Linked DNA regions of Homo sapiens. The protein of the gene in region 1 interacts with the protein of each later gene in a biochemical or structural test. Each region holds a gene or a part of one and is shown in the gene's direction. Other genes may lie near its edges.

The links.
Region 2: of the proteins of UBA1 (region 1) and UBE2G2, one has a biochemical effect on the other in vitro, tested with the Homo sapiens proteins (5 studies listed by BioGRID, with this or other methods).
Region 3: of the proteins of UBA1 (region 1) and UBE2B, one has a biochemical effect on the other in vitro, tested with the Homo sapiens proteins (10 studies listed by BioGRID, with this or other methods).
Region 4: of the proteins of UBA1 (region 1) and UBE2D3, one has a biochemical effect on the other in vitro, tested with the Homo sapiens proteins (10 studies listed by BioGRID, with this or other methods).

The regions. Positions count from the first base shown.
Region 1 is NC_000023.11:47,203,826-47,210,851, forward strand, and holds part of UBA1 (ubiquitin-like modifier-activating enzyme 1), read left to right. Parts: intron 1-442; exon of another isoform or gene 443-2,036; intron 2,037-2,122; coding exon 2,123-2,288; intron 2,289-2,422; coding exon 2,423-2,619; intron 2,620-5,797; coding exon 5,798-5,862; intron 5,863-6,102; coding exon 6,103-6,298; intron 6,299-7,016; coding exon 7,017-7,026. UniProt on the Homo sapiens protein: Catalyzes the first step in ubiquitin conjugation to mark cellular proteins for degradation through the ubiquitin-proteasome system.
Region 2 is NC_000021.9:44,770,798-44,777,823, reverse strand, and holds part of UBE2G2 (ubiquitin-conjugating enzyme E2 G2), read left to right. Parts: intron 1-406; coding exon 407-525; intron 526-4,136; coding exon 4,137-4,277; intron 4,278-6,334; coding exon 6,335-6,447; 3' UTR 6,448-7,026. UniProt on the Homo sapiens protein: Accepts ubiquitin from the E1 complex and catalyzes its covalent attachment to other proteins. In vitro catalyzes 'Lys-48'-linked polyubiquitination. Involved in endoplasmic reticulum-associated degradation (ERAD).
Region 3 is NC_000005.10:134,367,483-134,374,594, forward strand, and holds the start of UBE2B (ubiquitin-conjugating enzyme E2 B), read left to right. Parts: upstream 1-4,113; coding exon 4,114-4,157; intron 4,158-6,900; coding exon 6,901-6,981; intron 6,982-7,112. UniProt on the Homo sapiens protein: E2 ubiquitin-conjugating enzyme that accepts ubiquitin from the ubiquitin-activating enzyme E1 and transfers it to a E3 ubiquitin-protein ligase. In vitro catalyzes 'Lys-11'-, as well as 'Lys-48'- and 'Lys-63'-linked polyubiquitination.
Region 4 is NC_000004.12:102,803,542-102,810,567, reverse strand, and holds part of UBE2D3 (ubiquitin-conjugating enzyme E2 D3), read left to right. Parts: intron 1-712; coding exon 713-776; intron 777-864; coding exon 865-896; intron 897-7,026. UniProt on the Homo sapiens protein: Accepts ubiquitin from the E1 complex and catalyzes its covalent attachment to other proteins. In vitro catalyzes 'Lys-11'-, as well as 'Lys-48'-linked polyubiquitination.

The DNA.
Region 1 (7,026 bases):
ACAACCTCTGCCTCCTGGGTTCAAGCGATTCTCCTGCCTCAGCCTCCTGAGTAGCTGGGACTACAGGCATGCGCCACCACGCCCGGCTGATTTTGCATTTTAAGTAGAGACAGGGTTTCTCCATGTTGGTCAGGCTGGTCTCGAATTCCCGACCTCAGGTGATCTGCCTGCTTCAGCCTCCCAAAGTGTTGGTATTACAGGCGTGAGCCACCACACCTCACCCCTCCTTTTTCTTGTTCCCATTCTTTCTGTCAGAGATCTTTCTGCCTCTGCCAGAAGCCCTTCTTTTTGGCCTTTCTTTCCCTCAGCTTCTGTTTTTTTTTTTTTTTTTTTTTTTTTTTTGCCTTAACCTCTTTTTAGTGCTGGTTGGGACAGTGTGTCTGGGGTCCTCAAAACTACTCTCAAGCTCAATTCACCTAGAGTACTTACAGGACTCAGCATATAGTCGTGCTTGTGGCTACAATTTATTACAGCAAAAGGATACAGACCAAAATCAGCAAAGGGAAAAGGCTGGTGCAAGTTTCTAGGAGTCTTCTCCCAGCGGGAGTTAAACAAGGCGGCCTTTATTTCCCCAGTAGCAACAGTAACTACAGAAATAACAGCAACAAGGTGTAACAAGACATGAAATGTTGCCAACCAGGGAAGCTTGTTAGACTCAGCACCACCTCTTTTACTTGGGGCTGGTCATGTAGGCGCCCCCTTCCTGGCACATAACAAAATTTCCAGACTCCCAGAAGGAAAGGTGTTCAGCGTAAACTGTATTGTTTGCATGAACGGTTTAGGCACAGTGAACCACTGATACCAGGTAGGGAGCGGTGGGAACCTTCCTGAATTCCAAGTTCCCAGACACCAGCCAAGGAGCCGACCTTGGAAGCAGGCCTTTCCAAGGGTTGTAGTTTCAGTCTCCTAGGCTTACACTTCTCTGCACATATGGAAACTGGGTTGGTTATGCAGGGTTCTCTGAGAAGCTTTCTGTAAGGAGCAGTGTCGTTTTTGCTTACCCAGGATTTATTCCCCCTTTCATTTATTTCATTTATTCACCAGATAGTTTTAGTACTGTTTTAGGTATTGGGGATATACCAAGGAATAAAACAAGATTCCTGGAGGGAGAGGGGAACGGACAGCAAACAATAGACACAATACGATCGTGAGGTATATAGTTAATGTTGGTGATGAGTGCTCCTCAAAGGAAACAACTAAAACCAGACAAGGGAAGTCGGGGTGTCAGGGAGAATGGTTTGTAGTATTGATGACAATGGTTAAGGAAGGCCTGAGTTCTGCAAAGACCTCAAGGATATGAGGGACTAGAGTGCCCTCTGCTGTGGAAGAGCCTGCGCAAAGATCCTGAGGTGGGAGGGGTCAGGGAGCCAACTCATTTTACGGTAAGTGGAGGTGGGATCCAGGGGAGGATTCTGAGCAGAGGAGGGACGTGGCCCAATTTGGGCTTTGAAAGGATCCTGCTTGTCTGTGTGCCAGCATCCTGGTGGTGGTTGGGGGAGTCTGCATCAATCCTGGGTGCTGTTACCTGAAAAAATAGCAGGTGTTAGACGAAAGAACAGATGTCTGGCCCATTGTCTCCAGTCTGTTCCTGTCCACAGCTTCCCTTTATGCTGAGCCCCTGCCACATGCATCATCATCCTGGCCATGTGGCATTGTCACAGACCGTCTCTCCTGCTAGCCTCCTAACTCAGGGCCTGGGTCTTCCCCAGCATTAAGTAAATCAGTCTCAGGCAGACAGCCCTTTATAGGTGTTTGGGCCAGGTGCGGTGGCTCACGCCTGTAATCCCAGCTCTTTGTGGGGCCGAGGTCTTTGAGCTCAGGAGTTCAAGACCAGCCTGGGCAGCATGACAAAACCCTGTCTCTACCAAAAATACAAAAATTAGCCACGCATGGTGGCACACACCTGTGGTCCCAGCTACTCGGGAGGCTGAGGTGGGAGGATCGCTGGAGCCTGGGAAGTTGAGGCTGCAGTGAGCCGTGATCATGCCACTGCATTCCAGCCTGTGTGATGGAGAGAGACCCTGTCTCAAAAAAAATAAAGATGTTTGTTGGGTGAATGCACAAATAAGTGAGCTTTGTTCCCCCATCCCCACCCTGGAACTGCACTTTCTTAACCCTTTAGAAGTTAAAGTCTGACACGGCTGCTGCAGCTGTGCGCCAAATGAATCCACATATCCGGGTGACAAGCCACCAGAACCGTGTGGGTCCTGACACGGAGCGCATCTATGATGACGATTTTTTCCAAAACCTAGATGGCGTGGCCAATGCCCTGGACAACGTGGATGCCCGTGAGTTTGGAGGCGGGTGAGGTGGTCACGGGCAAAGTTGTGTGTGTTTCGGTGTGTATATACCAAGAGGGGTGTCCGTCTTTCTGTCCTCTCCTGATGTTTCTTTCCTAGCTCTCGCTTTGTGCTCCCCACAGGCATGTACATGGACCGCCGCTGTGTCTACTACCGGAAGCCACTGCTGGAGTCAGGCACACTGGGCACCAAAGGCAATGTGCAGGTGGTGATCCCCTTCCTGACAGAGTCGTACAGTTCCAGCCAGGACCCACCTGAGAAGTCCATCCCCATCTGTACCCTGAAGAACTTCCCTAATGCCATCGAGCACACCCTGCAGGTGATAAGCTGTGGGAGAAGGGAAAGAGGCCAGGCATCTGGCCAGGCTGCTGCCTCTCCGCCCCCAGGCCCTTGCCTTGCCTTCAGATGTTGCATGCCTAAGTGTAAGATGTGCCTTTTCTCCAAACCTCCCTCCCTCACTTCCCACCAGGCAGCCTAGGTTTCTAGAATGACTCATTCTTTTTTCACTTTTATTTTGATTTTTTTTTCAACACATAGACAAATATTAAGAATATTATGATGAATACTCAAATACCATTCCTCACCTAAATTTAACAATTCTTAATGTTTTGCCACATTTTCTTCTTAGATTTATGTAGATTTTTCTTCTTTGTGCTTAAATGTGTCACAGACATCACAGCCCTTTACTCCCTACTATTTCAGTGCCTCTGCCAAGTGAGGATATGTTGCTGTAGAACAGGGTTTCTTAGCTTCAGCACTACTGACATTTGGGGCTGGTTATTTATTTGTCATGGGAGAGGGGATGCCCTGTGCACTGTAGGATGTTTCTCAGCATTCCTGACTTCTGCCCACTAGATGCCAATAGCACTCTCCCTCCATCATGACATCTCAAAATGTCTCCAGACATTGCCAGATGTCCCCAGGGGTGCCACATCACTCCCAGTTGAGAACTACTTCTGTCTAACAGAAACATCATTTTCATGCTCAGCAAAATTAACAATCATTCTTACCATCTCTTCTAGTTATTTATTTGTCTCTAATGGTCCATATTCAGGTTTTCCCCAGCTGTTACTCAAAATGAGTTTAACAGCTGGTTTGTCAGGATGATTCTGTGTGTATGGTGCATTTATCTACAGAACAGTGCATATATTATCTAGCTCGGGGTGTCCAATCATTTGGCTTCCCTGGGCCACATTGGAAGAAGAATTGTCTCGGGCCACACATAAAATATACTAATACTAACGATAGCTGATGAGCTGAAAAAATAAAAGAAAAAAAGATCCGTGCATAAATCTCATAATGTCTTAAGAAAATTTACAAATTTGTGTTGGGCAGCATTCAAAGTCATCCTGGGCTGCATATGGGCCACAGGTTAGACAAGCTTGATCTAGCTGAAGTTTTACAAAGTGAACACACAGGTGACCACCACCTGGGCCAAGAAACAGAACCTAGGGATTACCATTGTGCTGTCAGAATAATTCTTAGTGCAGTGTTTGAGGCCAAACCATTTAGAATAGTAGGAGTATGAGGGTGGGAACAAAATAGGGAAGGGAAAAAAAAAACAGTTCCATCTGTCACTTTCTCCCTTCTGACACTGCAGTTCCAGAGTGGGTATGTTTGTATTTGTGCACCAACCACAGTCTTGCTAGGTCATGTGTAACCTTGAACTTAACCTCTCTGTGCCGCAGATTCCTGTTCTGTAAAATGGGAATGACAGCATCTACCTCACAGGACTATTGTGAACCACTTGGCATTTACTGTGTGCCTGGCACTGTTTTAACCAAGCTTTAAATATATATGTATTTGCTCATTTCTTCCTAGCAACCCCATGAAGGTAGGTATCACTGTTGTAACACCTGTTTTAGAGACAAGGCACAGAGGTAAAGATGTTATCCTGTGTGCCTGAAGTCACAAAACTAGGTAATACGTGGCATAGCTGGAATCTGAACCTGAATTTCTAACATCTGTACACTCCAAACCACCTCGCTAATGACTGCGAACTGTCCTAGGAATTCTCAGAGGCCAGAAGTTCTGTCTTGTTTGCTATTTTATTTTTTGAGACAGGTCTCATTCTGCCATTCAGGCTGAAGTGTATTGGCACAATCATAGCTCACTGCAACCTTCCAACTCCTGGGAAGTGTCTGTACGTGTGTGTGTGTGTGTGTGTAAGTGTCTGTGTGTACGTGTAAGTGTGTGTACGTGTGTGTGTGTGTGTGTGCGCACGCACGCGTGCCCGTTACGTTGACCAGGCTGGTTGTAAACTCCTGGGCTCAAGTGATCCACCTGCCTCAGCCTCCAAAAGTGCTGGGATTACATGTGTAAGCCTCTGTGTCCGGCCTCTGTCTTGTTTTCTGCCAAGTCCTCAGGGCCTGGATAGGGATCATTGTTGGTTTGGTCTGAGTTTTTTGTGTTTTAAAAAACTGTGGTAAGATATACCTAATTGAAGTTTTTATTTTTTATGGAGGCATAACATATCTAGAATAAGGTACACAGATTTTTTTTTTTTTTTTTTTGAGGTGGAGTTTTGCTCATGTTGCCCAGGTTGGAGTGCAGTGGCGCAGTCTCGGCTCACTGCAGCCTCCGCCTCCCAGGTTCAAGCGATTCTCCTGCCTCAGCCTTCCAAAGTGCTGGGAATACAGGCGTGAGCCACCTCGCCTGGCACTCAGATCTTAATACATTTTTAGGCTGGGCATGGCGGCTGACACCTATAATCTCAGCACTCAGGAGGCCAAGGAGTGAGGTTTGTTTGAGCCCAGGAGTTCAAGACCAGCCTAGGCAACATAGCAAGACCCTGTCTCTACAACAAATCTTAAAAATTAGCCGGGTGTGGTGGCATGTGCCTGCTGTCCCAGCTATTCGGGAGGCTGAGGTGGGAGGATCGTTTCAACCTGGGAGGTCAAGGCTGCTGTGAGCCGTGATTGCATCGCTGCACTCCAGCTCGGGTGACAGTGTGAGACTTTGTCTCAAACAACAAAACAAAACAGTTTTCCACATACACAGCACTATTGTAACCACTGCCCAAATCAACTTCATTGATTTTTCTTTTTTTGAGACAGTCTTCCTCTGTCACCCAGGCTGGAGTGCAATGGCATGATCTCGGCTCACTGCAACCTCCGCCTCCCGGGTTCAAGAGATTTCCTGCCTCAGCCTCCTGAGTAGCTGGGATTACAGGCATCTGCCACCACGCCCAGCTACTTTTTGTATTTTTAGTAGAGATGGGGTTTCACCATGTTGGTCAGGCTGGTCTCGAACCCTTGACCTCAGGTGATCCATCTGCCTTAGCCTCCCAAAGTGCTGGGATTACAGGTGTGAGCTACTGTGCCTGGCCTGGTTTTTCAATTGAGGTGGGGGAATGGGGAAGGCTAGAGGGCTTCCCCACTTCCAGAGTAGCTGTGCGCCTTGTACTTGCTTTATTCACTGATGGTCCTTCTAATAATGCCTGCGGAAACCCATTTTGTCAACTGTGGCCACATGTAATCTGTTTGCTCTGTCTGCAGTGGGCTCGGGATGAGTTTGAAGGCCTCTTCAAGCAGCCAGCAGAAAATGTCAACCAGTACCTCACGTGAGTAACTCGAGTGCCCTCTCGCCCTGTCCCTGTCCACCAGCCAAGGCATCCCGGCTGCTTTCCTCATGACAGTAACACTTGGCACCAGGCACACTTTTCACATGAATGAGTGGCTGTTGGGGCCTCATGTTGTTTGGGGTCGGGACTAGTTTTCCATGGAGAAAGTAAGATTGCTCTGGAGCCCACTCTTGAGGCTGACATGTAATCCTATCCTCTGTCCTCTTCGATTCCTGATAGAGACCCCAAGTTTGTGGAGCGAACACTGCGGCTGGCAGGCACTCAGCCCTTGGAGGTGCTGGAGGCTGTGCAGCGCAGCCTGGTGCTGCAGCGACCACAGACCTGGGCTGACTGCGTGACCTGGGCCTGCCACCACTGGCACACCCAGTACTCGAACAACATCCGGCAGCTGCTGCACAACTTCCCTCCTGACCAGGTAATGCCCAGTTGTTGGGTCCATTTGGCAGAATGTGTTTCCCTGAAATGGGAGCCTGCAGTGTGGGTCCTCCCACTGTGGAGTCCAGCTGTGGCAGGTGCCCTGAGGCATGGGGATCTGAGAAGAGTGATTGATCCTGACCTGCTTTTTCCTCACCCTAGTTCCTTTGAGCAAAGAGGCTTGGTTGCTATTGCCCTTGACTGTGGTGTGGGCTGCGTCATACCTGATTCCCAGTCAGGGCTGTAGGGATTATGGGGGAGAAATTCTGGAGTTAAGAGCACAGGAATCAATATGGGTTCAAATCCAAACTCTACTTGAACTTAGGCAAATCACGTAACTTCTCTCTGTACCTCAGTTTCCTCGTCTGTGAAGTAGAAATAATAGTGATCTATCTCATGGGGGGTTTGGGGAGGATTAACTGGTATTTATTAAAATGAAGTTAGTACAATGCCTGGTAATCCATGAGAGTTTGTTAAATGATGGGCTGTTTAGCACAAAATGGCTACCCAGTGATTGGTAATTGTTCTCTCAGCCAGATCTCTGGTTCAACCTGTGGGACCCTACAGTTGAGGTATTTTGTGATTGGCTCCAGTCCGCATCGAGTGCCCAACCCAAGATAGTGAATTGGGGGCACATCTGGGGCCTAGGTGAAGCGTGAAGATTGTCAGAGAGGCCTTCACTCTCAGGTCCTGTTCTCAAAAATCTCTCCATCCCTTAGCTCACAAGCT
Region 2 (7,026 bases), on another chromosome or scaffold:
TTTTTGTTTATTTTTTGAGACGGAGTCACGCTCTGTCGCCCAGGCTTGAGTGCGGTGGCGAGATCTTGGCTCACTGCAACCTCCACCTCCCAGGCTCAGACGATTCTCCTGCCTCAGCCTCCCAAGTAGCTGGGATTACAGTCATGCGCCACCACACCCAGCCAATTTTTGTATTTTTAGTAGAGACAGGGTTTCACCATGTTGCCCAGGCTGGTCTTGAACTCCTGACCTCAGATGATCTGCCTGTCTCGGCCTTCCAAAGTGCTGGGATTACAGGCGTGAGCCACCGCACCCGGCCTCACGTGCATTTTTAAAGTGGTAAAAATGTTCTTAACCCATTTGTCAATTGTGGTCGACGTTGAAAAATGTACTTTGAAGTTCAGTCTACGTATTTTATATCTTCTAGGGGCCCAGAAGACACCTGCTTTGAGTTTGGTGTTTTTCCTGCCATCCTGAGTTTCCCACTTGATTACCCGTTAAGTCCCCCAAAGATGAGATTTACCTGTGAGATGTTTCATCCCAACAGTAAGTGCTTTTGGAAGTAGTTTTTGTGGTACCAGGATAGGTACGGAGATAATATTATCAGCCACCTGAAATGTGGTATATTCTATATGTCTATGATGTAGATCTTTAGAAAACACTTCTTATGTTTTGAAATTCAGCCAAGTAAGCATGGTGGTATTAAGCACATGATTTCAATTTTGAAGGTCAGTTTAATATAGATAAAAGACAACAGGCACCTAAAACCGGATGCCATTTGACCCAGCCACCCTACTTCACTGGGGAGGAAGTTTTACACATGGGTGTGTGCTCAGAAGGGGTTATGCTAATCTTTGTCATAGTGTTATTTGTAATGGTGAAAATTTTGACTTAACCTGGGTTTTTAACACAAGAATAAATTAAGTTATATATTGTATTAGTCTGTTGTCACGCTGCTAATAAAGACATATTCAAGTCTGGGTAATTTATAAAGGAAAGAGATTTAATGGACTCACAGTTCCACATGGCTGGGGAGACCTCACAATCATGGCAGAAGGCAAAGGAGAAGCAAAGGCACATCTTAGTGGCGGCAGGCAAGAGAGTGTGTGCAGGGGAACTGCCCTTTACGGAACCATCAGATCTCGTGAGACTTGTACACTATCACGAGAACAGCACGGGAAAGATGTGCCTCCATGATTCAGTACTTCCCACTGGGTCCCTCCCATGACATGTGGGAATTATGGGAGCTACAATTCAAGATGAGATTTGGGTGGGGACACACCCAAACTATATCATATATGTTAGAATGTGATGTAGATTTTTTAAATGATCTAAAAGAAGAATCAATGATACAAAGTAGTATTTGTGTTATATTGACTGGGAAAAGCAGTAGCACTGTTATAATTTCCTCTTGAAAAAGAAATTCACATGTAAATGTATATATAACTGGAAAAGTAAGCACAAAAATGTTAAAAGTGATTCTTTTTTCAGATTGAAATTTTTTTTCCTTTTTGTAAATCTTTTTTTGCCCTAAAATTAATATATATTAATTTTAAAAGGAGGAAAAAAATAAGGTCATTTAAGTGAATTGTACTGTAGCTTATTTGAAAATGTGTCCAGTAGTAGGAATTGGAATTTCTGAACAGCTGTAGTTTTTATTTTTTCCTTTTACATTCTTCCTTTTACATCTTTGCCATAGGGGTTTTCAGGACTACCCCCCCACCCCCGGCCACTTCACTGGTGGAAATGCCGTCTGCCAATAGACTTGCTGTCCTAACCCTCGTTTAGGACTTCTCATTTACTGCAGATATTGGTACACATAGGTAGTGGGCGGCTGCCTGAGAGAGACCATTTGGTACTTCTTTTCTTATCTCAAAGCTGCTTCAGTCTTGTGTGCACAGGGGATGCTCAGAAGCGTGCCTTCTTTCAGGGAGACTGGCCATGCGCCTGAGTTAGATGATAACATGGAGGTTCATCACACGCTGTCTACTTGAGTGTGTTTTTGGAATTCTCCATAATAAAAAGTTAAAAAATACAATTGATAGGTAAGAGTAATTGAAGTAGTTTCAAATTGGTTAGCTATAAAATGCAACTATGAAGAGGATTGTAGGTAATTAAAATACTAAGATTGTATTGAGGAGAAATATATTATTCAGAACAATACCTGTGACATGGCATTAGTGACAAATATGACCAATAAACTGATTACCTTATGTGACTATGTACTACAGGTGGTCTGATTATTATTTTTAATGTTCTGGTAATTATTTTTAATGCTCAGATAATATAAATTTTTGCCTTACTGTAATTGGATTATTTTGATTTTTTAAAAATTATCTTTGAGAACTATAGGTCTACCAATATCATAAAAACTAGTCAATAAATACTTTAAAAACAATTCAACACACGTACTGAAAGTTGCTGGTATACAGTGGTGAGCAAATAATAGCAGACCTTCAGGAGCTTATATTCCAAGGACAGGGATGGACATTGATAGGAGAATCACACAAACAAAATGCAAAGTCACATCAGGAAGTTCTGGGCAGCACCTTGCAGAGGTGGTGGTTGGATGGACCATCTGTAGGGAGTGAAGCAGGAGTTACCTGAGTGATTCGGGGAGGAGGGGCCCTTCACATGTGCAAAGGCCCAGCGCAGGAAGTGACGGGAGAGGAAGGCCGGGGCCAAACTACCTCAGGCCTTTTGGTCAATACTGAAGGTTTTGATGTTTTCTCCTGGGAGTGGCGGAACTCCATTGAAAGACTCCAAGGGAGTGGCATGACCAGAATGATCTCTGACGGCTCGCTCTGGGTACAGTGCAAAGGACAGGTGGGAGGAAGCCAGGCAGGCCCTCGGCTGTAGTGGTCTAGGGTAGAGACACCGGCAACTTGGGAACTAAATGTGGGCACTAAAGATAAAGAGATGTGTGTGGATCCACGAGAGGTTTAGGACATGGCACTGCTGGGACTTGGTGAAGGAGGGGCTGTGGCAGGGACACAGGTGCTTTTGATGCTTCTGTGGATGCAGTGTCACCCTATGGGACCAACTCCTGGAGAAGGCAACACAGAAGTGGGAAACTTCCTGATTTTGTGGATGTGGATCTTAGGTGGACAGCCTGATGTCCAGGGCAAGTATGCATCTAGTTTCTTCCACTCTCCTTGAATGAGAAGTTGTGGTTCAGTTCCTGGATAGTAGAGCGTTCACCACTGAACGTTCACCACTGAAACAATGGATGAGTGGAAACACATAGGACCAGGTATGAAAGACAAGACTGTTTGAAGGTAAGTGATCGCCATTCACATTTGTGAATTTTCATGAAATTCAGAGCTTATTAACTCAGGTGAGTTAAATAAATGTATTTTAAAATTGCTATTTCTATTATTATAACTTTAATGGCTTTATAATTTTACAGTTGAGTCTATCTAGATGGATTACTGCATATCTGAGTATATATGGAGCCATCTGAGAATTCCTCCCAATTTTATGTAAAAGAGGACTGATTAAATGCTGTGAATTGAAAATTTATTTCTCTTTATCAGACCTTGTGTATCTTTTTAATGATGATATTTGGTGGAAAGGGATTTGATTTAGACACATTGACCTACATTCCAGGTTGTACTGATGATAATTTACTTATTATTAGAGTAAGCTACCAAGAGAAATCCTGGTGCCTTTCTTTTTGTAGATATTTACATAATTCCAGTTGCCTTTATCATAGCCATGTGAACATATATTTTACACAGACCGGTTCAGGGATTTAATGATAGAATTAGAAATAGCTAAGGAACTAGCTCTGAAAAGTATTGTAAATAATCCTAATCACATTAGATATTTTGATAAAATATTTGCCAGATAACCTTTCATTTAGTCTTTTTGTATATATTGCTTGAAAAAAATTCATATGAAAGTGGATTAGACTACGACAGCTGATTAGAACTGGCTGGGTCAGCCTGGAGCCTGTCAGTGAGTGAGCAGGCCCCACCGGGATTCCTGCAGACATGAAGCGTGACACTCAGGGCCCCAGGCTATGCCCCAGCTGTGCAAACAGCTTGGTTGCTGTGTCTGCAGTCTTTGTTCTCATTATCTGTGGAGCCTGCCCAAGCGCGGCGATGCCTCGGGCACCATTCCTGGGCTCACTTGGCTGCCTCTGACCCTTGCAGTCTACCCTGATGGGAGAGTCTGCATTTCCATCCTCCACGCGCCAGGCGATGACCCCATGGGCTACGAGAGCAGCGCGGAGCGGTGGAGTCCTGTGCAGAGTGTGGAGAAGATCCTGCTGTCGGTGGTGAGCATGCTGGCAGGTAAGGCCCGAGCCTCCTGGCAGGAGCTGCCGTGGACACCCAGGCTGCAGGTGTTCTCCAGCCTTGCGTCATCCTGTCTTTAGAATGTCCTTTTCCTCATTTGCAGTTAGTTTACACATGCTATTGCCATTTAATGTTATCTGCCTACACTTTTCCAATTGTAAGCATACCTTCTAGCATAGCCTGGGGTTGTATATTGTATTGTCGGCCATAATTAACTGGTCTCTGGTCCTTGATCGTCTTTTTCCCTCAGTAGGTGTTTATTGAGGACCCACTACATGCCACACACTGGACTGGGGGTGTAAAGCTTCGTGTGACAAAGACCCCAACTCTTTGTTCCTACGTTCTAGGGAACTGTCCAAGCCTACCAGCAGTTAGAGGCCAGTGGGATGCACCCTAAGATCAGACACATGCAGGGACTCTCGGGCCACTTCCTGGTGGGGCTGTCTGGGGTGTGTTTAGGACATGTAGGTGTTGATGAGGTAGGAGGGAGGGAATGGGGTTTTGGGGCAAAGGAAGCAGCCTGGGCTGAGGCCCAGAGGCAGGAGGTGGCTGACTTGATGGGGGCACTGCCAGCTCATTTTGGCTGGAGCCAAGGCTGCAGGGAGAGGAGCCCCAGCAGACCCTGGGGATTGGAGTTGGGGGTGTGATGTCCTGTGAGCTGTGCCTTCGAAGGGCCATCCTTGCAGCAGTAACCAATAGTGTGATGGAAGACAAACAGAGACATCGTGGTGTTGCAGTAGCCTGGAGAGAAAAGAGAAGGGCTGAGTGGTCCCAGGGCTAAGAGGAAGGGGTGGGTTTGGGAGACCTTGAAGGTACAGGCTCTGGGACTCCTGGTTCTTTGTCTACCAGAGGTGCTGCTCTGGGTTCAGGAGACAGCAGGATTTGGGGAATAGTTTGAGGTGTGTGGGACAAGGGGCCTCCATCCACAAAAGGGGGTCAGACACGAGAGTGAAGATGTGGGGTCATTTCTGGATGAGGCAGTAGGTGATGGAGTAGGACGGAGGGTGACAGCATAGCAGGGAGGGGTCTTCCAGGGCAGTCAGGAGGAAGGGTGTGGGAAAGGAAGGCGGCAAGTCCGAAAGGAAAGAGCAGACCCAGCAGAGGGCCAGGGGTCGATGCCAGAGTGAGGCCACTCAGCTATTCTCTGCAGAGCCTTTGGGTGCCGTGGAGTGGGGTCTAGAGGGATGTGAGGTCAGGGCCTGTGACGCGAGTGTGTATCCTGAGAGGGCTGAGGCGTGAACCCTCTTCATGTGCTGAGTGGAGGGAGCCAGGCCAGGGGATTGGAGATTGGGAGGGAGGCAGTGGCTCAGGCTGTCCTCAGATGTCAGCTGTGGGTTTTATCCTCATCAACTCTGCTCTGAACCGGTCCCCACGTGCATTCTGAGCAGCGCCACCGCCGCACTGCACAGCTGCTGCCTCAGCACATGTCATCCAGTTCTGGTGGTCTCTCTCCGTTCTGCCTTCCGGCAGGCCCTGGCTACTCCCTCCGTGCCTCCTAACTGCAGTTCTGCAGTGACTGCCAGTGCCGCTGGCTAGGGGGTGGGTCAGGTATCCTGGGGTCAGGTGTCTACCTTAGGCTGCACATTTGCTTGGGATTGTCTTGGTAGGAGCTGTGAGGGGCAGTTTTGCTGAGAGGGCGCTCTGTGAGAGAGAAGCCACACTGCAGAGTGTCTTGAGAAAGGTGAAATAAGCAGCAGGTGGTCCCCGTGTAGCTTGTCCGGGTGCCAGAAGTGCAGTGGCCCAGGAGGCTGCTGTGGGAGGCCGTGTGGGCCTGTGCTTAGGTGGTTGTCGCATGTTCCACAGCAAGACAGATGACAACTTGTCCTGGTGTCTTCAGACACTCAGAACGCAGGAGTCATGAGAGTGGCTTTCGTTGAGACCTGCGTGGCCAGCACTCTAGAGGTGGGGCCGACCCCATGCAGTTCTCAGGTTCTTTGTTTCTGGGACACAGCTCTTGAAAGCCCCCGCCAGTGTTTTAAATAAATGGGAGACCTTGCCAGGCTGCTTACGTATAAGACTCCCTTTTACATGGAGGGTGTTCCCTTTTCTTTCAGAGCCCAATGACGAAAGTGGAGCTAACGTGGATGCGTCCAAAATGTGGCGCGATGACCGGGAGCAGTTCTATAAGATTGCCAAGCAGATCGTCCAGAAGTCTCTGGGACTGTGAGACCTGGCCTCGCACAGGCGCGCACACACCGCCAAGCAGCTCAGCATTCTCCCCCGGCACACTTAGTGACAGTGATGCTCTGTGCTGGTACCAAACAAGGCAGACTTGCAAGAACCATGGCATCTTTTTTTTTTTTCAAACCTTTCCTACTTCAAACAGGCTTCTCTTCTGAAATGATGACTTAATGTCGAATATTGACAGCTTACTGCAGTTTTACAGTATTCCTCACAAAGGGCTTCAGGTAGATTATCAGAGCTGTCAGCACTACCTCTCCCCGCTGAAACCAGCAGTTCATGGCTTCCTGTGGATTCCCTCCCTCCCTGGAGTGTTGAGGGGGTTGTACCTGCCAGACTTCCAGGGGACGATGGAATACCCAGAACGCTCCTTCTGAAGAAATGGGGCCCTGTAGCTGCAGCACAGGGGAAGGGCCCGGCACCCTTTCTGGGTCCTTCCTGGTTCCCTGTGGGCCCCATGAGGAGTCCATTACTTCCTTTCTTCCTTCATATTTTACAGGCAGATGCTTTTCTTATAATCTAATTACATCTTTTCATTTGTTATATATTACAAACCATCACACTT
Region 3 (7,112 bases), on another chromosome or scaffold:
CCTGCCTCAGCCTCCCGAGTAGCTGGGATTACAGGCGTGTGCCACCACGCCCGGATAATTTTGTATTTTTAGTAGAGACGGGGTTTCTACCATGTTGGCCAGGCTGGTCTCGAACTCCCAACATCAGGTGATCCGCCTGCCTCGGCCTCCCAAAGTGCTGGGATTACAGGCGTAAGCCACCGCCCCCGGTCAAGATGGTTCTTAAATCAAAAACTTTTCTTGAACACTTGCCATATGCCTTTTAATTTTTTCCAACTGCTAGTAATCTTTTTTAAAGAAAAAAAACCTCCCTCACCACATGTCAAACTCTAGGAAAGCAAGTAATTCGAAGAGTTCCACCATATACGAAATGATGTACAAGAGCACGGAAATAAAGAGGCCAGTGTCTAACTGCTTAAGTAGACATAGAGTTCAACTGGAATGACAGTCCCTAATGAATAACCACCATATCACTAGACCAAGTGCCTAGGGAGTGCTTTCTTTATTGAATAGGGCTTTCTTTGCTTTCTTCTATAAAATGAGTTAAATGTAAAAAAGCGAAATCTCGCTATGCTTCCGCTAAATAAGAGGAAAGGCATTATTTAATAAATCTAGTCTGGTGGGTCCCACCCAGCATGCATATTTAAATCACACCTGGAGAGCTTTTAGAAAGCATCCCAACCCCCACCTCCACACCCCTGCCCCAATGCCAGAGCACCTGATTTAATTGGGATAGCGTAAATAAATTAGTATTTTTGAAGCTTCTCAAGTTTTTTCTATGCTGCTAGGGTTTATATTGAGAGAAAGGAGAAGTGGTCATCGTTTTCATTGATCACCTAAAATATTCAGAATTGTCTTTTCTTTGAAGGTTATTCAGACGGGCGCAGTGGCTAACGCCTGTAATCCCAGCACTTTGGGAGGCCCAGGCGGGCGGATCACGAGGTCAGGAGATCGAGACCATCCTGGCTAACACGGTGAAACCCCATTTCTACTAAAAAATAGAAAAAATTAGCTGGGCGTGGTGGCGGGCGCCTGTAGTCCCAGCTACTCGGGAGGCGGAGGCAGGAGAATGGCGTGAATCCGGGAGGCGGAGCTTGCAGTGAGCGGAGATCGCACCACTACATTCCAGCCTGGGTGGCAGAGCGAGACTCCATCTCAAAAAAAAAAAAAAAAAAAAAAAGAAAGTTATTCAACCACAATATAAAATACCTTCTATAAATAAGAATGTCATAGTAAATCTTATAGTGGGCTCAAACTTGGTGTAAGCATATTATTTGTTGTGGGCTAAATATTTGCAAGGAGGCTGCGCACAGTGGCTCACACCTGTAATCCCAGGGAGGCCAAGGTGGGCAGATCACTTGAGCCCAGGAGTTCCAGACCAGCCTGGGCAAGAGGGCAAAACTCCATCTCTACAAAAAATTAGCCGGGCATGGTGGTGCACACCTGTGGTCCCAGCTACTTGGGCGTCTGAAGGAGAATTACTGGAGCCCAGAAGGTCAAGGCTGCAGTGAGCCCTGTTCACACCACTGCACTCCAACCTGGGTGACAGAGCAAAACTCTGTCTCAAAAAATAAAAAAATTTGCCCAGGACAAAGATGAACCAAACTGAGTCCCTGCCCTCAATGAACTCATAATCCAGAGCTACAGAACTGATAACAGCATACAGTTAATAGCTTTAAAATTATTCCTTCTACAAGTAGGTTATGGCAGGCCTGGTTAACAAGGACAGCCAGTGATTCTTGCTAATACACAGCTGTAAGACTTTATGATGCACATTCACTGAATCAGTTAAAAGTGTTATATCATTTTGGAAAATAATAAACTGTTTCCAAAACAATTATAAATCCCTGTAGTCTCTGAATTCCTTACCTCTATTGCCTCCAGTTCCCATCTTCAGGACTTCGTTGGTGGGTCAGGAGGACTCTGAGCACTTTTGTATCCATTCGTCAGCTCAACAGGGAAAGAGGGGGTAGGAGGAGGACCTCAGCATTGCCCTAATCTTGCCCATAGTTCCATGGAACCAGAAAGGGTTAACTTTTCCCACTTTCCTTGTACCTCCCTTTCTTCAAACCCTGAATTCTGTCTCTGCTTTCAGTGACTGCCTTGACTGATAAATTACAAGGGTTTTTTTGGTTGTTGCGGGATTTTTTTGAGGCAGGGTCTCAGTGGCATGATGATGGCTCACTGCAGCTTCAACTTCCTCGTCTCAAGCGATTCTTCTGCCTCAGCCTCCTGAGTTGCTGGGACTATTGGTGTGCGCCACCATGCCTGGCTAATTTTACTTTTTGTAGAGACAGGATCTCCTATGTTGCCCAGGCTGGTCTTCAACTCCTGGCCTCCCAAAGTATTAGGATTACAGGCATGAGCTAATGCCCCAGCTCATGAGGGATATTTTTAAGATATAGTTTCTCTTTACCATTTTTCTCCATGTAACCCTACCTGTGTGTCTTCCTCCTTTGCTATTGGAAGGGTTAGGACTGCAATGGCAGAAAGGCAAAAAAATTAAGAATATTCAGCTTTTAACTTAAAAAACACATTGCGAATGTCTAACAGGACCTATCAAGAGTTAGGCCTGGCTAACCTGATCACCAAGGCAGTCACTGGAAGCAGAGAGGGAATTCAGGGTTTGAAGAAAGAGGTACAAGGAAAGTCAGAAAAGTTAACTCTGCTTCCATGGAATCAGGGGCAAGGCTGAGGCAATGTTAAGGTCCTCATTCCACCCTCCCTTTACCTGTTGAACTGAACAGTTCCCCAAATGGATACAAAAGTACTCAGAGTCCTTAGTATAACAAAGTCCTGAAGGTAGGAATTGGAAGCAATAGAGGGAAGGACGGTGACCACAGAAAATATTCAAGGTCTTTGGGAGGTCAACACCTCTGAACCCCCTGGTGGTGGGGGGCCCTTCTGGCCCATTTGCACCTTTCTTGCTAGTGTAGAAAACCTGAAGTTATCTCAGGCTAGATATATAACCCTCACTCATGTCTGCCGGAGCTCTCCCCCAGAATATGAATCATATTTGTAGGTTTCTTTGACAACCAACCACTCATTGATATGCTTGGAAGACTGCACCCCCACATTCCTTAAAAATACAATGGTACTCCCCCACCATAGGCAAGTCCCCGGACTCTGACACATATCTTCAATTGAAAGCAGACCCAGAAAGGAAAAACTGCATAATACACCATCCTTTAATATTTGCCCAGAATTTCCAATACTAGAAACCCCACTGCAAAGCAGAAAGACTATCTGGTAGCTTCAAGGAACCATTTCAGGAGATTGTTGTGTGGGCCTCAGTATTCAAGGCTGCCTTAGAAGATCGTGCGATCCTCTCACTCTTCTTGCCCCAAGTACCAGAGTTAATAAGCCACTGAACCAACCAGAGGGGAATTATTTTTGGTCCCGGTTTAAAGAAAACAAAACAAGCTGTTGATTCTGCCATGACCTCTTGGGTAATGTTGTCTCTATACCTGTGATAAACAGAAAACAACTAATAAAGGTTTATCCCGCCCTCACCCTCTTAAACCCGCTTCACAGACCTGGCTGAAACTCACATCCAGGCGAGGCGCTCACGTGACCCGTTCTAAACGCGTCATAGGGACACGTGGTTCTAGATACTTCTCCCCCTCCCACTCAGGGGTGGATTGTTGACAAGGCCGCGGGCAGTCACGTGATCTTACATCATCCCACCTCCTTTCCCTGAAATCTCTGGCCCGGATGCGTCCCTCTTTCTCCACCCCGCCGAGCCTAAACTAGTGACGGGGAGGGAGACGGGATAGTGTTTCTGTTTCGTGGTCTTTGAATCCACAACCTCTAGTCTGAACACAGAGAACACAAATTTGTCTATTACTTCAGGAAGCCCAGGGGGAACCGCGCCCCGCTGAAGGGCTCGGGGAAGGCGCGCTCCCGCGTCCCGCCCCCTCCTCCCCCAGCACTCACACTGTGGTAGCGGCGGAGGGCGGAGGGATCCGGAGGCGGCGGAGGGAGACGTCATTGCAGGGTTGTTTGTCAGTCTCGGCGGCGGCGGCGGCGGCGGCGGCGGCGGCGATCCACAGTGATTCGGCCGCCGCGCCGGGGGGTGGGGGGGCTGCGCGGGACTTTTTTTTTTTCAGACTGACCGCGGGGCAGCTGCGGAGCATGTCGACCCCGGCCCGGAGGAGGCTCATGCGGGATTTCAAGCGGTAAGGGCCTTCACCTTCGCCTAGATGACGGCCCCTCAAAGCTGCGGGGCTGCAGGGCGTGGATCCCAGACACCTTCCCCTTTGTGACCCTCAGAGGGCCGGCTGTGGGCCCAGCGGGACTGGCGGAAGCCGGGTCCTAGCCTCGGCCCTACTCCCATAAGCTTTGCCGCTCGTTCTGGCGCCCGAAGAAATTTTGATACTGCTTCCCCTCCCCACAAAAAGTAAAACGGTGTCGATCGACTGGTCTAGGGTTCCCTGCTGCCCATTTCGGCCAGCTGCCCGGCGTCTCGCCCAGGCGATCAGACATTATCCGCCCGCCCCTGCACCCTGCGGCGCCCCCTTCTTGTCCCCTCAAAGTGAGCTCCTGCGGGAGCTTGTTCCTCTCCGGCAGCACCAGTCAGCTTTGTTTCACGGCCCCGCCGTCTTCTCCGAGGAGCCGTGTTGGGGCGAACCCCTCTCCCGACTCCTGCCAATCCTTTCCATTTGTGCCCTGAGGGTGGGGTCCAGTGCGTGAGGCCCGGAGGTTAACCCATCCCCCGAAACCCGACTCTGTCCCCGCCCGCCTGAAAGGACCTTGGGAACTGACTTAGAGATCTGGGACCTTAGAGCTGGCCACCCCGGCTGCCAGTGCTTTCTGGAACTCAGCTCTGGCTGGTGAAGAAAGCCCCTATCTATAGCCTCCCGAGTCTGGAAAAATGCCTTCCCTTAGACTGGCGCTAATCTGATACTCCCTGGGCCTCCTTTGGTAAATAAAATAGGGTTTTGTTAGGAGGTATTGGGGTTGTGAGATAGAAAATGATTATTCCGTTGTTTACCTTTTATTGGATACTTAGAGACATAGAAAAAATAAGTGAGAAAACATCATTTTGATACTCTGCACATTTTTCTTAACATTTTTTCTGGGGACACCTGCCCTAATTGAACAAAATATCTAGCATAAAAACTTAGATTTGTCGCTCAGGAAGTCACCTCTCAGCTATTATAAAGCCTATGTGAGGCACTTGGATTTGGCCAACTTATTTAATTCATTCGTAGCTTCTCTTAGCCATTTAAAGGTAGGCGTCAAGCAGTGCAGTTCTTCTAAGGCTTCTGTTCGTGGTGGCCTAATTTGCTTGAGATTGACTAAAAACCATTTTTTTAATGTGGACTAGTTGCAAATTATGATGCCCCATGAAAAACAACTGCATATGTATTTGTGTGTGTATATAATGTAGCATTTTTAATTGAGGTTACAGTCTCTGAAAGGAGATGCCCTTTTTGGTGCAAAAGTCATCTTTCTAAAGCTTGAAATCAGCGTATTTGATTAGCACTCATGACAAATTCAGATAGTAAACTAGTTCATGTCATTGTCGCCCTGGCTCCTTACTGTAATGCTCTGCTTAATTCTGAGTTGAATGCATGGCACCTTTTGTAGTTTCCAGAGATCTGCAGGTTACAAGAATTTGACTATGACGAATGTTGGAAAGCCTTGTGTTGAGTCTCCTGATCTGAGAGGTGGATTTGGTGTTAGTGCAGAGCCTTTAAAATAGGGACTGGCAGAAAACCTACTAATTACTTTTTAAAGCCATTGCTGTTTGAAGCAAAAGGAATAGAGTAAATCTGCTGCCTAATACTAGTTTCCTAGTTAAATTTAATGTGTTTTCAGTCATTTTGTGTTTACACTGAGGTTTGCTTTTTTTTTTTTTCTTGTAGCCATTTTGCAGAAGTAGCCTGGTTAGGATACACAGTCTTTGCATGTTTAGAGCAGCAAAATCAATGGTTCTGTAAAAATATTACTTGCTTTTGAGGTTTTAAACTTTTTTTGGTATAAGAGGACAGTCTATATACATCAATTCTTTTTTTTTAAATATATTTTAATTATACTTTAAGTTCTAGGGTACATGTGCACAACGTGCAGGTTTGTTACATATGTATACACATGTGCCATGTTGGTGTGCTGCACCCATTAACTCGTCACTTGCATTAGGTATATCTCCTAATGGTATCCCTCCTTTCTCCTCCCGCCCCACAACAGGCCCCTGTGTGTGATGTTCCCTTTCCTGTGTCCAAGTGTTCTCATTGTTCAATTCCCACCTATGAGTGAGAACACGTGGTGTTTGGTTTTTTGTCCTTGCGGTAGTTTGCTGAGAATGATGGTTTCCAGCTTCATCCATGTCCCTACAAAGGACATGAACTCATCCTTTTTTATGGCTGCATAGTATTCCATGGTGTATATGTGCCACATTTTCTTAGGCTAGTCTATCATTGTTGGACATTTGGGTTGGTTCCAAGTCTTTGCTATTGTGAGTAGTGCCGCAATAAACATACGTGTGCATGTGTCTTTATAGCAGCATGATTTATATTCCTTTGGGTATATACCCAGTAATGGGATGGCTGGGTCAAATGGTATTTCTAGTTCTAGATCCCTGAGGAATCGCCATACTGTCTTCCACAATGGTTGAACTAGTTTACAGTCCCACCAACAGTGTAAAAGTGTTCCTATGCATCAATTCTTGAAGAGATAATATTGAAAGAGGGATGATTCTCAAGCCCTTTCAATTTTTAGATAATTTGGAGAGGTATTTAATAAGTATATATACCTGGTTAATATATTTAAGTCATATGGTTCATTTTAGTTCACAATAACAAGGAAATGGAGTTAGTCTGTGTCTCAAAATAGATGGTATAGTGTCTGTAGGTGTTTACGTGGCCTCCTTAGTGGCCTTAATGTTCAACTTTTTAAATTACCACGCTGGATTTCCAGGTTACAAGAGGACCCACCTGTGGGTGTCAGTGGCGCACCATCTGAAAACAACATCATGCAGTGGAATGCAGTTATATTTGGGTGAGTTGAAAGGTTTAACAAATAATAGGTGTGTGCTGAATCTTTAAGAAAAGTAAACATATAACAACTGTCTAGGAAAAGAAACTGAGGTGGAATGAGAGATCTTAAGGACTAAAACTGCAAGATAAATT
Region 4 (7,026 bases), on another chromosome or scaffold:
GTCTCTACTAAAAAATACAAAAAATTAGCCTGGCATGGTGGCGGGCACCTGAGGCAGGAGAATGGCGTGAACCTGGGAGGTGGAGCTTGCAGTGACCCCAGATTGCGCCACTGCACTGCAGCCTGGAGACTCCGTCTCAAAAAAAAAAAAAATTTCAATAGTTAAAAATGGATGCTGAGTTTAAAAAAAAAAAAAAAGGTTGAGTTGAGAGAATAAGGAGATTAGAAAACAAAAAAGGTACTTAGCCCCATGAGAGTTTTTTTGGTTTGTTTTCAGGTAGAAAATAGAGTTAGTGGATTGGGGAGGAAGGATGGTTCAGGAAGAACAAAGAATTTAAGACAGTTGAGGGCCTCTGAAAGTGGTCTTGGAAGTTCAACAAATAACGTGAATGTTGAGCTCTCTCTGGTCTAAGCTCTTAAACTATGAGAATATCTAATTATAGCTATTTCGGTTTGTAAGAGATTGGCTTTTATGTAAATAAAAAATTTTGTATCAATGTGTTTGCATATATATTTTTACGAACTCTAGCTAAGATGATTGTCTCAGCATATGTTCAGGCATGTTCTCTCTCCTAATGGAATATATTATTTATGTGAATTGTGATGGAGTGTGCCTTTAAAAATAGGGTGAAAGTAACTGAAAGCAGTGGACTCATTTGCTTGTTTTCTTAAATTAAGCTTATGTGACTCACCCATTTTCTGTCTTGGTGTAGGAACTTAGTGATTTGGCCCGTGACCCTCCAGCACAATGTTCTGCAGGTCCAGTTGGGGATGATAGTAAGTAACTTGCAAGTTGATTTTTATGCCTAATTTTTTTTTAAGCTTGTGCATTTTTAGATAACCAGAGTTTTTTTTCTTTTTCTAGTGTTTCATTGGCAAGCCACAATTATGGGACCTGTAAGTATTAAGAATTTTTAAATTTAGTTTTAAGTGAAAATCCAGCATTGATTTGGTTGTAATTTTTAACTTGGTCTGTAGGTTTATTTTATCATATAGTTAATTCTATTTTGGATATTCCATAGTTGTACTGCATTTGAAAGAAAAAACATAATGAGTTAGTCATTTGTTACGTGTACTTTGTGTCTATCCCTGTGTTCACGTTCTAGAGTATAGCCATCTCTATGACCTACCAAACATCTCTGTATCTCAGTTCAGTTTTTCTACATAGCACTGTGTAAAGCATTGTCATGGAACTTCCTGTTATTTATAGAGACAAAGTTACTGGCTCTGATATGCCATGCGTTGTGTTACTCAGAGATCTTATTCTGTTACTGCAGCTGCCAATAATCTAGCTTAATTGTATTTTGATATTTGATTCTTTATAGAACTTCAGTTTATGCAAAATTTGAATATATTTAGGCAGAAAGTGATATTTTGAATATAGCAAAATTCCTTTCTATCCTGGGTAGATAAGCAACTATATGCTGGATAATTGAATATTCAGAATTATGGATACCATCTAAGAATTTCAGAGAATTAGAGCGCACTAAAACATCCTGGGGTAAGACTGTATCTTACACAAATATTTAACTTTTTTTTTTTTTTTAACTTGCTAAGGCGCTTAAGGATTTGTTTTCTAAGTTACATGTGTATCTTCCTGAAAACTGTCTTCCCTTTTTGGTGGTTTTATAAGCAACATAAAGAGCAATAATGTACTAGGTGAGATAATGGTCAGTAAGTAATATTTAGAATTCTAAAGGAAAAAATGCTCTTAGAGTTAGTAGATGAGTCGAATCAACAAGTATTTATTTAGTAATTCTGATTCTAACTTTAGTCATTTTTCTGTCTCAAATGTGAGTACATACTGTGTGCCAGGTAATAAGGATACAAATTGAACATAATAAACATCCCTGTCGATCTTATAGGGAACTTACACTGTATTAGAGGAGACAGATACCTAAAACAAGTGCTGAAGTGTGACAAGATGGAAAATAAGTGATTGGTGAATGAAGTGCTGAGTAGGATAAATTAATGGGAAATTGAAGCAGGGAGGATTAATTTAGAGTAATTAAAATGTTAGTGCCCTAAAGGTAGAAAAACTAAATCAAAGTAAGACATGGCAGGGGTGCAAATATTAAGTTTAATACTTTGAAACGTCCTGGATCATTTTAAAACAAAGTAACATTTAAAACAGTAAAAATAGTCCTGTAATAACGAAATGCACAATCCTGGCTTTGTAGTTATTAAAAGTACTTACTTTTATCTAATTTGGTAGCAATATTGTTTAATTTTAATACACGCAGTTAAATGTTGAGTTACCCAGTTTGGCCCACACGATATTTTTGAAAGTTGGCAGTCTTCAAATAAAAGCCTTCTGAGTAGGCCCACATTCCATAAGCAGTAATGGCTTGGGATGGAATGACAGCTGCCTCCCTTTTTTAGATGGGATATGTGTTTACCACAGTGCCTACTAGGTCAATTCCATATTATCTGCCTAGTGTTTTGTAAAGCAGTTGCTTTTGCAACCTCTAGAATTTTCCCATTTTGGATTACCAGTTTTCAAAGAATGCTATAAAATGCCTTAAAATAAAGCTCATCTTTGATTCAGAGGGTAGTTGATAGTTTCATTATAAAAATTGTCAATACTAAGAAAGCACAGAAGCGTTGGTAATTAAAACTTCTAATTGGATGGTGTGCAGAATAAACTAACTCTTTAAAACTAGTTGGTTTTTCTGCTTGACAGTTTAGACTTTGTTATTTTGAACAACACACTAGTTTTTCCCAAAAGGCAAGGAACATACCTATAGACAATCAAAAGGAAACATGAATGATGAGTGTATGGTAGTAATTTTTTTAGAGAATGGTGTTGCTTATTCTGACAGATTTTTTAGCAGTTTACTTAATTTGCTGTTATTTTGAGAAAACATTTACCTTTTTTCATTTTTTAAATATATATTTCAGGTGATGGCTATTCCTTGCTGAACTTTTTCAGCAACCTTTTAATATAATGACTAGCAGTTTTCTGCTTTTACAAACAGAAGCATGTGATTTTCAGAACCATTTAAATATTAACCTGATTAACCACAACTGCTGGGTTTTGCTTTGGTAGCAGTACTCACTGAAATATGTTTTCAGTTAAAAAGGTTAGTTCTCACTGTTGGTTGGGTAAATTTCAAGAAGGAGTCAAAGATTATAAAAATCCACCCAAAGTACGGGTATTGTCTTGTACATAAGTAAGCACATAATTTAGATGCCAGCTTTAAATAGTTAACTATATGCTTACTGTGGAGTGCACCAATGAAACAACTCATTTTGTTCTTTTGGCTTCTCAATACTTCTTTGTGACAAAGCATCACTGTATAAGATAAATAGTAGCTTATTTTGTGAGTATGGTTGCTCTATGTAGCAAGCAGTTGTGACCTAAAGCAACCCATAAATTACAGATTTAGTGGGAGAACTGGACAGTTAACAACGTCACTTTTGCTTTGGACTACTACTTAGGTCCCTTAAAGTGGTGCCAGTGCCACAGAACTGAAGATTCCTGACTGTAGGGAATATACCATCTAATTTTGAGTTTCAATAGAGTAACTTTGATTTTAGTGAGTTGTTGGGAAATCCTTTAGATCATTAGTTATGCAGCAAAATTGCTTGGCTTTAATAATCATATGTACTGGCTTATTCTTTCTGAAGGTAAGCTACTTCGGAAGCACAACTATTGACTAAAAACTAAACCTTCGAAAGAAATGACAGCATTGCTAGTTTTTTGTGTGCGTGGGTTTTTTTGGGGAGGGGGGCGTGGGGTACTGTATTAAGGTTAGTTTCCAACAAGAATTGATGTAATTAGAAGAAATTGACTTCCTTACCTATTGCCTCTGATATTTACTTGCTTAAATTTTTTTTTATTGGAAATCCAGAAAAAGTGGATTTAGAGAACAACACTAACTCCCACCTAATCTATGACAGAGATGTAGAAGAGAGTACCTGTGAAAAATGTGAAAGTATCTGAAAAATGTAACCTTTGGCAGCCTGAGCATAGTCAACCAGAAAAACTATCTGAATTAAAATAATTGGTCCATAGGTACTATTTTATTTGGTCCATAAGGATTATTTTTTCAACTTTTTTTTCAAGTGTATTATTATGTCATTTCCCACGTAGGTTACTGATACCTGAAGACTTTTTCCACCTTTAACCTTACTCGTTGAGGAGCTTTGTAGTCTAATAAAAGAGAAATATAAGTAAATGTTAGATATATGGGTGGATAATGGTAACTATGTGCTTAAAGAGGTATAAAAGAAGGGTAGGGAGCAGATAAGACAAAGGAAGGGCTATATTATAAGGAAGAATATTCCAAGTAGGGAAGAGAAAAAGATATGTTATCCATATAATATTTTATGTGCAGTAGAGAACATGTTCTATAGAAGAGACAGAAGATGAAACTAGATGGGCACCCAGATCATAAAGCACCGTATGTACTTAGGAGTTGGAATTATCTTAAAAACTATCATAGATTTCAAGCAGGGGAGTAACATTTTTAAAAGACCACTTTATCATTAGGATGGAGGGATAATCATTAGTAAGCTATTGCCATAATCTAGGCTGAAGATAACATCATGAACTAAGATGGTAGTGACAGTGGGCATAAAGGAGAAGCTAATTCAAGAAATTTTAAAGATCTTACTTGATAACTATCTTGATTCTGAGATAAGAGAGGAAGAAGTTGATGATGAGATCCTGGTTTATGGCTTTCAGTTATGGCTTGCTATTAATAAACAGGAAAAAAGGGATTGAGACAAGTTTCAGTTTTGGACGCATGACATGAGATATCCAAGTAGAGATATCCAAGTAGAAATATCAGTAGGCATTTGAATATATGCCCTGGAATGAATAACTGACCAGAGATATATTTTGCAACTCAAATTTTTATGGGTCAGCAGTTAAGAGTAGAAAATCAACCTATAAGAATACCAGCATTTTTAGCTGGGTGTAGTGGCACATGCCTGTAATTCCAGCTTCTTTGGAGGCTGAGGCCCGAGAATTTACTTGAACCTGGGAGGTGGAGGTTGCAGTGAGCCGAGATCACACCACTGCACTCCAGCCTGGGCGACAGCACCACTTTAAAAAAAAAAAAAAAAGAATACCAACGTTTTATTGCCACAGAAGAGCTGAGGCACTGTGAGGGAGCAACTTTGCACTGATGAGAGCAAAAGAAGTAGAAGGTTTCTGAAAAAATCTAACATAAATTCTGGACTTGTACGATTTGAGTCGATTTGCTGATCACAGTGTTCCTTATTCTTTGGGGATTTTGTTTCTTTTTGGTGTAGTTTGCTGCTGATTCATAATAGAATTTAAATATCATAGGGTCTCAATTTTTTATATTGCCTAGTTTCATTATCTCTGAACCTCGTAGTTCTTCCTCTTTTGGCATGGCAGAACTTTAGTGTTAAATTGTAACATTGAAATATTTTGCCTTCTTTATAAAGTTCTTTTTTCGAACAAACGAAACGAAATTTGGCTTTGCCTAAATCCCATCAGCAGATTGCCTTTATTCAGAAGCAGTCATAGACAGCATTTGATTTTATGAAAATTGAAATGAAAGCTTACAAAGAACTTCTGGAATTAGGTTATTAAAACTTCAATGTTTGGGGCCGGGCATGGTGGCTCACGACTGTAATCCCAACACTTTGGGAGGCCAAGGTGGGTGGATCACTGGAACTCAGCAGTTTGAGACCAGCCTCTCAACTAAAAAGACAACAAAAACTCCGTCTCTACTAAAAAGACAAAAAAAATTAGCCAACTGTGGTGGTTCACTCCTGTAGTTCCAGCTACTCGGGAGGGTGAGGTGGGAGAATCACTTGATCCCAGGAGGCAGAGGGTTGCAGTGAGCCAAGATCGTGCCACTGCACTCCAGTCTGGGCGACAGAGCAAGACCCTGTCTCAAAAAAAACAAAAACAACTTTAGTGTTTGGGATTACCTTTAAATTGTTAATTTTACACAGAAAAAACATATCTTGTATAGTATTGGATCAGGTGAAAGTATATGCTATTTGAAGCATCTATTCAAAATTAATATAACTATTTAATAAAGACATGTTAATCTAATAAACTCAGGTCACATTCTAAGTGACCTGAGTGTTTTTCTAGTTCCATATTTTGTAGAAAATATGAAAAAGGACTGGGCACGGTGGCTGATACCTGTAATCCCAGCACTTTGGGAGGCTGAGGCAGGCGGATCACCTGGGGTCAGGAGTTAAGAGTTCAGCCAACATGGTGAAGCCCCATCTCTACTAAAAATAAAAAATTAGCTGGGCACGTTGGTGCACACCTGTAATCCAAGCTACTGAGGCAGCTGAAGCAGGAGAATCTCTTGAACCTGGGGAGGCGGCGCTTGCAGTGAGCTGAGGTTGCACCATTTTACTCGAGCTTGGGCAACAAACAGCAAGATGATATTCTGCGTCTTGTTTGTCCCCCTTCCCGTTCCCATTCCCCCCGCCCTCCACCCCTACAAAAAAAAAGGGGGAAGACTTGGGAGATGGAGAAGGACTCACTTTAAATAAGCTCTGGCTGGGTACAGTAGCTCACACCTATAATCAGCACATTTTGGGAGGCCGAGATGGGTGGATCACAAGGTCAGGAGGCCGCAAGACTAGCCTGGCCAACATGGTGAAACTCAGTCTCTACTAAAAATACAAAAATTAGCTGGGTGTGGTGGTGCATATGTGTAATCCCAGCTACTTGGGAGGCTGAGGCAGGAGAGTTGCTTGAACCCAGGAGGCAGAGGTCGCAGTGAGCTGAGATCGTGCCACTGCGCTTAAGCCTGAGCGACAGAGTGAGACTCCGTCTCAAATAAATAAAAGCTCTTCCATTTACTAGTTGTATATTTCTTTGAACCTGATTCTTCATTAATAAATTGACCTTTCTTCTTTGAACTCGTGTCCCTTGTTCATATTTCATGATACCTATAACATTTCATTGCAGTTACTTTACATGTCTATCAGTGTAAGCTCATCAAGATAAAAAAAATTGTTCTTTGGATCCCTTAACACACATACAGTATATAGCAAGGGGTTAGATTAATTGAATTAATGT